Regions from separate parts of the Homo sapiens genome. Here region 2 is linked to region 1. The links come from fine-mapping of genetic effects on gene expression. A gene starts in region 1. The other region holds a variant in brackets. All regions are shown on one strand. Distances are between the middles of the regions.

Region 1 (5,387 bases):
TTCATGTCCACATCTTTCTAGAGGAATAAGAAAAACCAAAACCAAGTAAGATTTTCAAAATTTCAGAAAACTGTGCAGAACATTCATGCTTGTATCTTCTCTAACAAAAAACACTAACTACAAGAAAGGCAAAAGTTCATTTTACCTTATCTTCTGAAATGTTTGGAAATCTACATTGAAATGACTTAAATGGTTTAAAATCTAAAAAGTTGTTGACAAAGGTCACAATGATAAGAAATAAAATGGTGCTAAAATACTTAATTACTCAATATATATTTAAGAGATGTCAATTTTATACAAGCAATAAAATATCTTCCCTTGGGTGGCTTTTCTGACCATTAATCTTTTTATTGTGTAACAAGTAATACTTTGATATAATTAAGACAGTTTTTTAGCTTCCAATTCAGTGGACAGACACTTCATTTGCTTCTCTGTTGAAACCGTTGTCTCAAGAAATCCAGCATTACTTTAAAAAGTAGTCTAACTCTGAGAACCTGTGTGCTGTGGTTTGTCACCCAACTTCCAAGGTTACCAGAATATACAAACACTAAGCCAACCTTCCAGTTAAGCTTGCACCTGTGCAAGGAGAGTTCCCTTCCATTTCTCCAGTCAAAATAAAGTCCAGAAAATTGTTCAGTTCCCAATTACTGTAGTGACTAAATTACCAAAATAAATAAATTCAATTTAAGCTGGTCTATTTCCATCACAGGATTTCAAGGCTATTCTCCCTATGCTACAGGCAAGTTTTAACTTGTGTCTGGCCAAAGGAAAAACCTTTGCCAAATAATGTTCCTGCTGCCATCCCAGCTGGCTTTTCGTTTGTCCAAATCGCTCTCTAGTCGTTGTCTTTTCACTTCATAAACGCCACTGAGAATTGTGCCCACCACAGCCCCACCCCACTCCCAATCCCACTCCCAATCCCCAGGTTCAGATTATGGTATTTGGTATAGTTCTTGAACTCCACATAGCCCGCTCCGGAAGCGCACTGCAAAACGCACCCCAGATGCTTTCCCAAATCTATTCCTTCATTCTCTCATTTCAGAAAATCGCTCTATTTATTCACCCTGAGAAAGTGGACTCAACCCCCGCTTTCGCGCTGGAGAAGGAAACACAATCATTCTCTCTTTCTCTTCCCCTCCCTCCCCAACACCTTCCCTCCCTCCTCCCTTGCCCCTCCTAATCTCCAACCCTAAGAGCAGCACTCAGACATGCAAACTTTCTAATTCCTTCCACCCTCCCCTGTCCCAAACACTGGGCAATTAGACTGGAGATAACAGACGCAGGGAAATCTGGGTTTCCATCTGTCAAGGAGTCCCCTTTCCCCACACCCGCTCTCATGCCCCCGCCCCCTCGAGGGGCTCTGGGGGCACCTTTATCGCTTCTCCCCTGCCCTCTAGAAAACCACCCGTAACTGGAGGCTCCCGCGCGGCAGCTGCACCAACAGCAGGTGATCCAGGTGGTGCGAGGCGATGCCTTGTTATGGCATCCTGCCCTCTGCAGGGACACCACTGAGGGCCACATGAAATGACCCCCAGCAGTCCTGCAAAAGCAAAGGGGTGGAGGAGGGTCTATGCACCCTGCCCTGTGCCCCAGTCTCTCCCACCCTGTCCTCCGCAACCGAGGAGACCCTGGCATCTGGGAGCGGGCTGGGCCGAGAAGGCAAGATCAATAAAGTTCAGCAAGTAGACAGCTGGGAGCTGGGTGCTACTGAGTTCTAGAAAGGGGGAGTAGAGACGGAAATATCCGAATCGGTGAAATGTAAATCGTGTCTACTGCATAAGGGAATCGTGCAGGGAGAGCCGCTCTCTATAAGGAGTTAACCAGCGCCTGCCCCGGACACCCCCGCGGGGCCTCCAGCGGGGCTCAAACTGGCGGCGGCTCAGCAGGGGGCGAGGGGTGCTGGGAAACGCCGGGGCTGCGAACTTACGGAAGAAAATGTACTCGGTGTAGCTGCTCCAGATCTTGTCGTCGCGGTACTGGTTGACGAAGGCGGCGGTGCCCGAGGAGTTACACGCCACCATGTGGAAGCCGGCCTCGGACAGGCGATCAAAGGCCTGCTCCAAGTAGGTGAACTTGAGGTAGAAGCGGGACGTGTACTTCTCCGGCTGCCGGTCGGGGTCGCGGCTCTCGTTGAGCGTGTCCCCGAAGACCTCCTTGGCCAGCGCGATGCGCCCGCACACCATGATGCGCGCCACACGCCGGAATTTGGCGTCGGCCTGGTTGTCGCGCACGGTGGTGTAGGAGCCCCGGTAGCCCAGCGTGAGGAAGCCCGAGCGCTTGTCCTGCGCGCCGCCGCCGCCGCCACCACCGTGCGCTCCCGGGCCCGAGGGCACGGCGGCCGCCGCCCCGCGCAGCAGCAGCGCGTCGCTGCTACCCTGCGAGACGTTGTCCTCCAGGTCGCTCTGGCAGCCCTCGTCGTTGAGAGAGTTCTGCTTGGTGACCTTGGGCGACAGCAGCTTGACCAAGTCGGTGAGCTGGAAATACTCGGCCTCGCGCAGCAGCCGCTCCTTCTCGGGGAAGTGCTCCGGCAGCGCGAGTTGCTTGTCCCGCAGATAATCCAGCACGTACCTGAAAAGGAAGCCGTCCCGGTCGATGAAGAAGCGCGCCCGGCTGTCCCTGGGCAGCTCGCCCCGGCGCCGGGCGCCGCCACGGGGACTAGAGGGCGAGAACATGCTGGCCAAAGTACTGTCCGGGACGCTGAGCAGCGTCGAGTGCTTGGTCACATAAACCTGGCCGCCTACGTTCAGCTCCACTACTTCAGGGAAGGGCGAGGGTGCGCAGGGCCCCGGGGCGGCGGCGGCCGACGCGCCGGGCGAGCTGGACGAGGAAACCATCTCGCTAATGGGCAGGATGGTGCTGCCGCCGCTGCCCGTGTCCTTCAGAGCCATAGTCCCCCCGCCGCCGGCCCAGTGACCCGAGAGAGCTGCACTTTCTCGTTCCCGGAGCCCGCGCCCCAGCCCTCCGCGTGCTCCTGGCGCTCTGCGCCCTCGGACTGGGCGGCGCGTTCCTCCGACCGGGGCGGCCCCGCTCAGGGTTCGGGGCAGCGGCGGCGTCGGCGGCGCCCGAGCTCCATCGGAGGAGAGACGCGCGAGAGAGGAGCTCCGCCGGTGCGGCGGCGGCAATGGAGAGGCAAGAAGGAGCTGCTGCTCCTTTGGGGCGAGGGCGGGGAAGTGTGAGAGAGACTTGCGAGAGGCTCTAGGGCTGCTGCTCGGCTCTCCGTGGGGAGGGCGGGAGGAGGGGCCGAAGCAAAGAAAACTCGCCGCCCCGGCAGCTTGCAAGCGTGCCGCGAGGCCGGAGCGCCGACGGTGGCGCTAACTACTCCTGGCAGCACGGGAGGAGGCACTGACGTCAAGCCCCGGACTGGGACCCGAGCCTCAGCTGTCATTTAAAGAGATAGGCTGCAGCCGCGGCTCCCGGGCTCCGACGCTAGGGGGCGGGGCCGAGAGCCGAGCCTGCAAGAGGTGCAGCTCCCCGACCCGCGGGGACAGGCAGGCAGGGAGCTCCTAAAGCAAAAGCGAGAAAAAGGGACAGCGCTCTCATTCCTTCATTTCACTCCCTCCTTGGGTCTGTGCCACCCCCTTTCCTCCCTCCTTTCCTTCTTCTCTTCCTTCCTTCCTTGCCTCCCTCCCCAGTAAAACTAGTTTTTTGCACTTTCATTAAGGTAAGGAGTGGAGGAGCGGAGAGGGGAGAATAAGGTTTTGATTATAGCAAAGATGCCAGGCTCCTAATCTGAAATCACCACAAATGTTGGCTTGCCAGCAGTGATTGCAAAAAGATTACGTGAGGGTGGGAAGGTACATCTCTTGTAGTGGCTTTATGATACAGTTTAAGTGAAGGGCTAAATGCGCGTACCTCTCTTGGAATCAAATTTCACGACTGCGTGCACTGAATATCCTTGAATAATTTTTAAAACTTTGTAATCTGCTTTCAGTTCACAATAATAAAGGAGTGTATGTAACAACTGTTTCCTTCCGACATTTTTACAATTTTTAGTTTTAAATTAGATGCTTAATAAATGTTTATAGAGGGAGAGACGGAGCCCGAGAGGAAATTTACTCGATTTGTTCATTCTTTCTAATCCTGATCAGTCTCATTAATCTCTCCATTTCCCTTTCAGCTCCATCAAACAAGAGAAGTGGCTGATATTTTTATTAGTCTTCTAACCCCAAGAGTAAGGTCACAAATAAAAATTATATGAATTTAAGCTCACCTTAATTTCCATGTGTACATAGTACAGGTACAGTCTGCAAAATGAGCATTACTTGTGATAAAGACTGAAAATAGGAAAGCAAATGAGAAATATTTCTTCTACCCTGGGGCATACATCTGTGTTCAGAAACATAAAGAATCATTGATTTATGAAGTACAAAAGAGAAAAGGGTGTATTGTGGCACAAAGTAGTTTGCTTCAATTATCATAACAATATTACAGATGAACTTTATCCATTAGCAGTCGATATACAGATTTTAATATTTTTTAAAAAGTTAAATGCCTACTAACAACTCCTTTTCTTCAAACCACCCAAAAAAGTATCAAATTTCAGATACGGTTGTAAATTAATACATTATTTTTGGAACATTACAAATTATGTTTAAATCATTGATCCTTATAAGCTGCATCCATAGACAATGTTATACCAATTTTGAAGTTGCATTATATGAAGCAGAGAGAACCTAATGGACCAATGAAAGAACAGAATATATTTGCCAAAGGACTGAGACTTAAAACGGGGGTTTCGGTATGCATCATCATGCAATCCTTTTACTCAAAACTATTGTGTCCTGCCAAATTTATAAACTGATTGATCAAATTAACTAATTTAATTGATTTAGCCTTCATTTAAAAGTTAAAACCAAGTATTAAAATAACAGAAAAAATACACTATTTTCTGCCTCATTAGAAGAATATTCGGGATTTAAAGTAATCGTTCCTGGATAAATGAATTAATAGATGCTTTATAATCTTCATAGATGAATATATAATAATGCCTCAAACCACTACTAGTGAAGCCCATTTATCATAAGGTAAGTGTCCCTAATGATAAGTAAGGTGCAGACTGTAGAACTGTAATGAAGTGGATATATAATAAATATGCATGTGAATATGAAGTCGCTAATATCAGGTTGAAATCCATCTTTACTTTTGAATTAAATAAATTATGTCTATAAGATAAAGTGATCAAAAATTTATACTCTAAATGAATCATCTCAAAAATTCACAATGAATTGTATTGTTTGATATATTCCTTTTTAAAATGATTCCTTCAACTTGATTAAACATTTTTTCTTAATTTCTTCTCTCTTCACACTCCTATTACTCTCCTCTGTCTCCCAGTTATACCCTTCAACCAAACTCAGACTGAACAAATTGCAGATCTACAATGTTTC
Region 2 (5,387 bases), 96 kb after region 1:
CTAAAATCACCCCCAAACTTGAAAGGCGCACACTTTCCTGCCATCAAATGCTTAGGGTCTGTAATGTGTCTTATTTATTTTGGTTTTGTGTCATTTGAGTTTACAGATATCAATGTGAGGCTTACTGTCTTTGTCCACTGGGCTGGTACAACAAAATACCACAGACTGGATAATTTATAAATGATAGAAATTCATTTCTCACAGTTGGGAAGGCTGGGAAGTCCAAGAGCAAGGCACTGGAATTTGGCATTTGGCGAGGGCCTTCTTGTTGCCTCTCCGTAACAGGAGACCAGAAGATGGAAAAACAAAAAGGGTAAAATTCTGTAGGAAGTTTCTTCTATAAGGACCTTGATCCCATTCACAAGAGAGGAGTCCTCATGATCTAATCACCTCTTAAAGGCCCCGTCTCTTAATAACATCACATCGGCCATTCAGCATCAATACTTAGATTTTGGAGAGGACATATTCAAACCATAGCACTTACTATGTGCCGAGTAATGTTCTAAAGATTTTATAAATATTAATTTTTTCAGTCCTCATAATCTGAGTACTATTATTTCACTTATTTTGGTGGTAAAGGATGGAGAGGCACTTGCCCAAGTACACGAGGCTATTAAGTGGCTGAGCTTTGCACAATAATAGTTGTAGTCTGTAGAATCACAGCAGCCTCGAAGAACAACTGGTGAAATTCTACAGTTTAGACTGAAATTTGTGTTGTCACAGATGGAGAACTCCATACTAACAATCTATTAGCTGTAACACGGAAACCAATAAATTATCTTGACTAATACAGGGATCCACAAGTCTGAATGGTGGATTAGAGGGCAATGTAGAAATAGTTCAATGAACGAGCAGAAACTGAATCCATAGCATTATCCAAGGCGCTCTTGGCTAGGTTTTACACACACACACACACACACACACACACATCAGTTAACCAAATTAAAAAGGGAAATTTCTTGCCATCAAATAACTATAGAACTTTTTTTGAGAAGACTAATTTCTTCGCCATTAACCCATTCGTAATCTTTATGTCCAGAGTTAAAATAACCCCTTCAGGTATTGTTAGAAAGAATTTGGATCGATTGTGTAGATCTAAATTACATGTATAAATTGTCATCCTGAAAGGGAAAATAAGTAGGCCTCTCTTCTTGCCTAAAACCTATATTTAAATAACAACAACAAAATGACTAAATTTATGTTGCGTTAATAATCTGCCTCTACCTTTTCATATAAACAGTTGGTGTGAAACTTAGAGTATTTTTGTTTTAAATAAAGAACACTAATATTAACAATTTGAGCACTTAATCTGTGCCAGGCCCTTTTCTGAGAGCTTTATGCGATTACCTCATGTAATCCCCATAATGACCCTATGAAGCAGATTCTGTTATTACTCTCATTTTACAGTTAAAATAACTAAGACAAAATTTAAGTAATCAGCCTAAGGTCATATCTCGGCTAATGGGAGTGAGTGGAGCAGAGAGTTAAACCTAAAAAGTCTGACTTCAGAAATTTTGCTTCTAACTATTGATAGGGAAGATTGTCAGAATAAAATAACTACAATTGAAGGACTTAGCATCCAGAAGCCTTGTTCACATTTCTATTTTAATTTTCAGAAGTCCCTGGAAGGTCAGTGAGTATCATCTGTATTTAGGAAAGCAAAGTGAAATGTCTCTCAAATACTAAAAAACAAAAAATAAAAAAATTTATCCTATATCCTGTAAAAATTCTACCAGTAAACACAACACAATGCTGTCTGAAAATGAATGCGTACTGAAGTCATTTTATGACTATTGCCTTGTGGCTTGTGAGCCCTGCCCAAGCAAAAGATAAGGTCTTCCATGGGGTTCTAAGAGCCTAACAATAGACCAGGCTTTTGACCAACAATTCCACATTATCAATTTTATTCATTTTTAAAACTCTTAATGGAGGCATTGAGATTCTGATGATGCATTTATGTCTAGCTTGCAATTAGCTCTGAAATCTCCTGCTTACCATCAATTTGATATTTTAACTCTCTCCATACTAGTATCTTATATAAGAACCATAAACATATGATATAGCCTTGTTATGTGCCAAGCACAGACCTAAGCACTTCATGTATTTTAACTCATTGAATCCACACAACTGTATTAAATAAGTACTGTTATTATCACCATTTAAGACATAAAGATACTGTGGCACTGAGGTTAAATATCTTCAAGGTCACTTACTAGGTTAAATGGTAGAGCCAGAATCCAAGCTTGATAGTCTGGCCAAAAGACCATGTTCATAACCATTATACTGTACTATACCATGGGATGACTCAACTATTACAAAGCATCATAAGACCTACCCCAAGATATTAACTCATTCACTAAGCATTTACTGAGCACCAGTTTTTCTAGGCACCGTCAAGGTCTGGGAATACAATGATAAGTAAGGCAGAGGGACTTTTAAGAAAAAGAAAGAAGCAAATAAATGATTAATTACAATACGATGGACTAACTGCCAGCCTAGGGCATATAGAAAGGGCTGCAGGAGCATAAATGGGACTATACTTGGTAGAGAAGCCTCCTTGGAGGGATGGAAGAGAGGAGGGATATCTGAGGGGGAGAAAATAGAC[G/A]GAATCCCCAATATAGTTAACAAAGTGAATTTCAAAAAACAAACTCATTACCTTTACTTACCTCAAGGAAAAATTAATGATGCCACGTTTCGAGAATATGAATCATTTTGAGTCAGGGTCCTTGCAGGACACATAGAAGTGACAAGTAAAACCATTTAATAATGGGACTATTTACAGAGTTGTGAAGAGAGTTAAAAACACCAACTAGGGCAGGAGAAGAATTATTAACTCTAGAAGCTAGAAGTTTTTACTGTCTGTAATCTGGGGAGTTTTTACCGTCTGTAATCTGGGGTGAGATCCTGGTAATCGGCAAAGAGATGCTGTTGTCCCTGAAACCTGACAATTGCTGTAATGGTGGGAAAGGCTCTGCTGCAAAAGGAGCTGTGGCTTTAAGTAGAGAAACACAGCCACTGTCTGAACACAGACCAACACCTGGGGAAAATAAAACTCGGATTTCGTTCTCCTCCTATCCATCAAGCTCCTACTAGTGCCTCCATTGGCCAACCAGAGGGCAAGAGAGTACAGGTGATGCAGTCCACAGAAGTCAGGTTCCTGGTACCTAGAGCAGGGTATGAAGGAAAGAGACTGGATCTGGAAAAGCAGAGAGCAACCAACAGCCAGTTATTGCTCAAAAACAGTACTTGGTTATTCATCACCTCTAAAGAAAACAGGAAACAATAGCAAATGGGCAAAATGAAGACTTTTCTAGAAGAGCTACCTAATTACCAAAATCTGCAACATGAAATGGAAGTTGTAGAGATCTTGCGTAAAGGTTTTTAAATACAAAATTCATGTCACTTCTAGTCCTGATTCTCTGTAGTACTAATTACTGATTTGAAAATTTTTAAACCAAGGTGACTTATTTCCATCTACAGAACCTACTTCTCATAACCTCCATTTTAGAGAAGAGTTTTTTTTTTCATATGGCAAGCAAAGGTTATTTTTTCTACCTCTTACCATCGGTATATCTATTTCCTTCCTTCCTTTCCCACTACTGCTGCTTTGGTTCAAGCTATTATCAACCAAGGTTCCTACTGGCCCTGATAGCAGTCAACTCCAGGTCTCTGAAATGACAGGCTGCTGTCTGCCCAGAGCGTTGAATATGCTCCCAGAATACAACGTAAAATAAATTCAGATAATGGCACTAGGAATTTCACACAGAAAGATCTTTACTGATGATATTTTCCAATTTGCATGTAATTTGCAATAATTTTAACTACAAAATTACCGTTTAATTACCATTCAATCTTTTCTTTTTTTGGCTTCTTTTAGAGAGATCCATTAATTAAGGTGAGAAATTAGATGAATCTGGTTCTGCTGAATAAGGGAAATTGACTTTGATCTTTGTGTAAAAATGAGGCATTCAAAGAAATTCATTGATCAGCATTAATTAATGTTCTCTCTGACAGTATTTAGTTTCAAGTGTTTAGTAGTGCTGTCCCTTACTAAACTTTCTTTTACACTGCTCTCAGTAAAGTTTTAAATTGTGCAAAATTTCTTATTTATTCATTTTTTTCTTTGGCGAGCATGGAAAAATGGAGCCAATTGTCAAAGTTGACCCTGGGTATCAGTAAAAGAGCAAATGTTTCAAAAGTAGCAAGTATAACCTCTGTCTCTTTCTCTTCCCATGATACTGCAGAAAATAGAATTTGGAAGGTATTTATGGAAGAGGAAAGTGGAGAATGAAGAGTGGGAAACAGCAAGTGGTAACTATGAAGCTTAATTCTCAGTATTTAAAAATAACTTTTCTACTTTTAGAGTAGCATACTAAACAATTGAACCCTTTTTCTGTTACAGTCATTAACTAATGGTACAGACTATTTACTACCTTGTTGGTACTGGACTTAGCTCTGTACAAAACAATAATAAATAAGCTCAGTATTTATCTGCCCTCAGAACATTAGCATTATGAATACATATACATATAATGTGTGTGTGTATATATAGTGTGTGTATATAAAATGTGTACCCATATATTAAGTGTATATATATTTATGTCCCCATATATATGTGTATATACTTTTATGTAATATATATTTTATACACATATATACTTATATATCCTGTTTTTTTTCAGGTTAATATTAAGACACATATGGAAAACTTACACCATATGAGACACATCCATTGGCACTCTAGACCACCTACAGAATTACAGATGGGAGTCTCATGATCTTTATACTTCATCAAATAGTTCATACTCTCTGCCCAGGTCTTATCTGTGTTTTCTTAGAAGAACATAAAAATGTAATATGACTCTACCATCAAAAAATGTGTCAATAAAACTTAAACACAGTTTAAAAAATTAATGGTGAACGTTGCCAAATGTCTATGATAAATTTGTTTTACAAAATATGATCATTGTGGGAATGAAGAAATAAAAATAATTAGACGAGCTAGAACAACCTTTACAAAAAAGATAGCTAACATATTTATTGAGCACTATGTGCCAGGCATCCTACCTTTATTTGCCATTTGATACTCACAGTAAACCAATGAGATAATATCATTGTATAGTGTAATGATATGGTATAGGATATTGATTGTAATATGGTATTATGACCATGAGTATATTTAACCTTGCCAAACTTGCTAGAATTTAATTTCCCCATCTACAAGTGGGGAAAACCATCAACATTACCTGCTTCATGTGTGAAGTGCAAATAAGATTATGTATATATAATATTATATAAAAGATATATCTATCTATCTATCTATCTATCTATCTATCTATCTATCTATCTATCTGTCTACTACTTTGAACAGTGTTCAACTTCCCACA

Which allele goes with the higher level. Positions count from the first base shown, and alleles are read on the strand shown. Sizes are in standard deviations (SD) of each study's normalised expression.
In carriers of allele A in region 2, the expression in tibial nerve of the gene that starts at base 3,174 in region 1 tends to be higher than with G alone (large effect, 1.3 SD a copy in GTEx).

Evidence for each region. PIP is the estimated chance that this variant, and not a neighbour inherited with it, causes the effect.
Region 2: its variant is the best candidate, but not a certain one, in a credible set for the expression of KCTD8 in tibial nerve (GTEx, PIP 0.82).

Annotation. Positions count from the first base shown.
Region 1 is chr4:44,445,636-44,451,022 of GRCh38, forward strand. KCTD8 (potassium channel tetramerization domain containing 8) reads right to left here and starts at 3,174. Exons shown (of 2, transcript NM_198353.3): 1 at 1,928-3,174. The coding sequence starts at 2,888.
Region 2 is chr4:44,542,023-44,547,409 of GRCh38, forward strand. No RefSeq gene overlaps it. Among named protein-coding and RNA genes, the nearest start is that of KCTD8, 96 kb to the left of the region's middle. The variant G/A (reference allele first, on the strand shown) is at 2,606.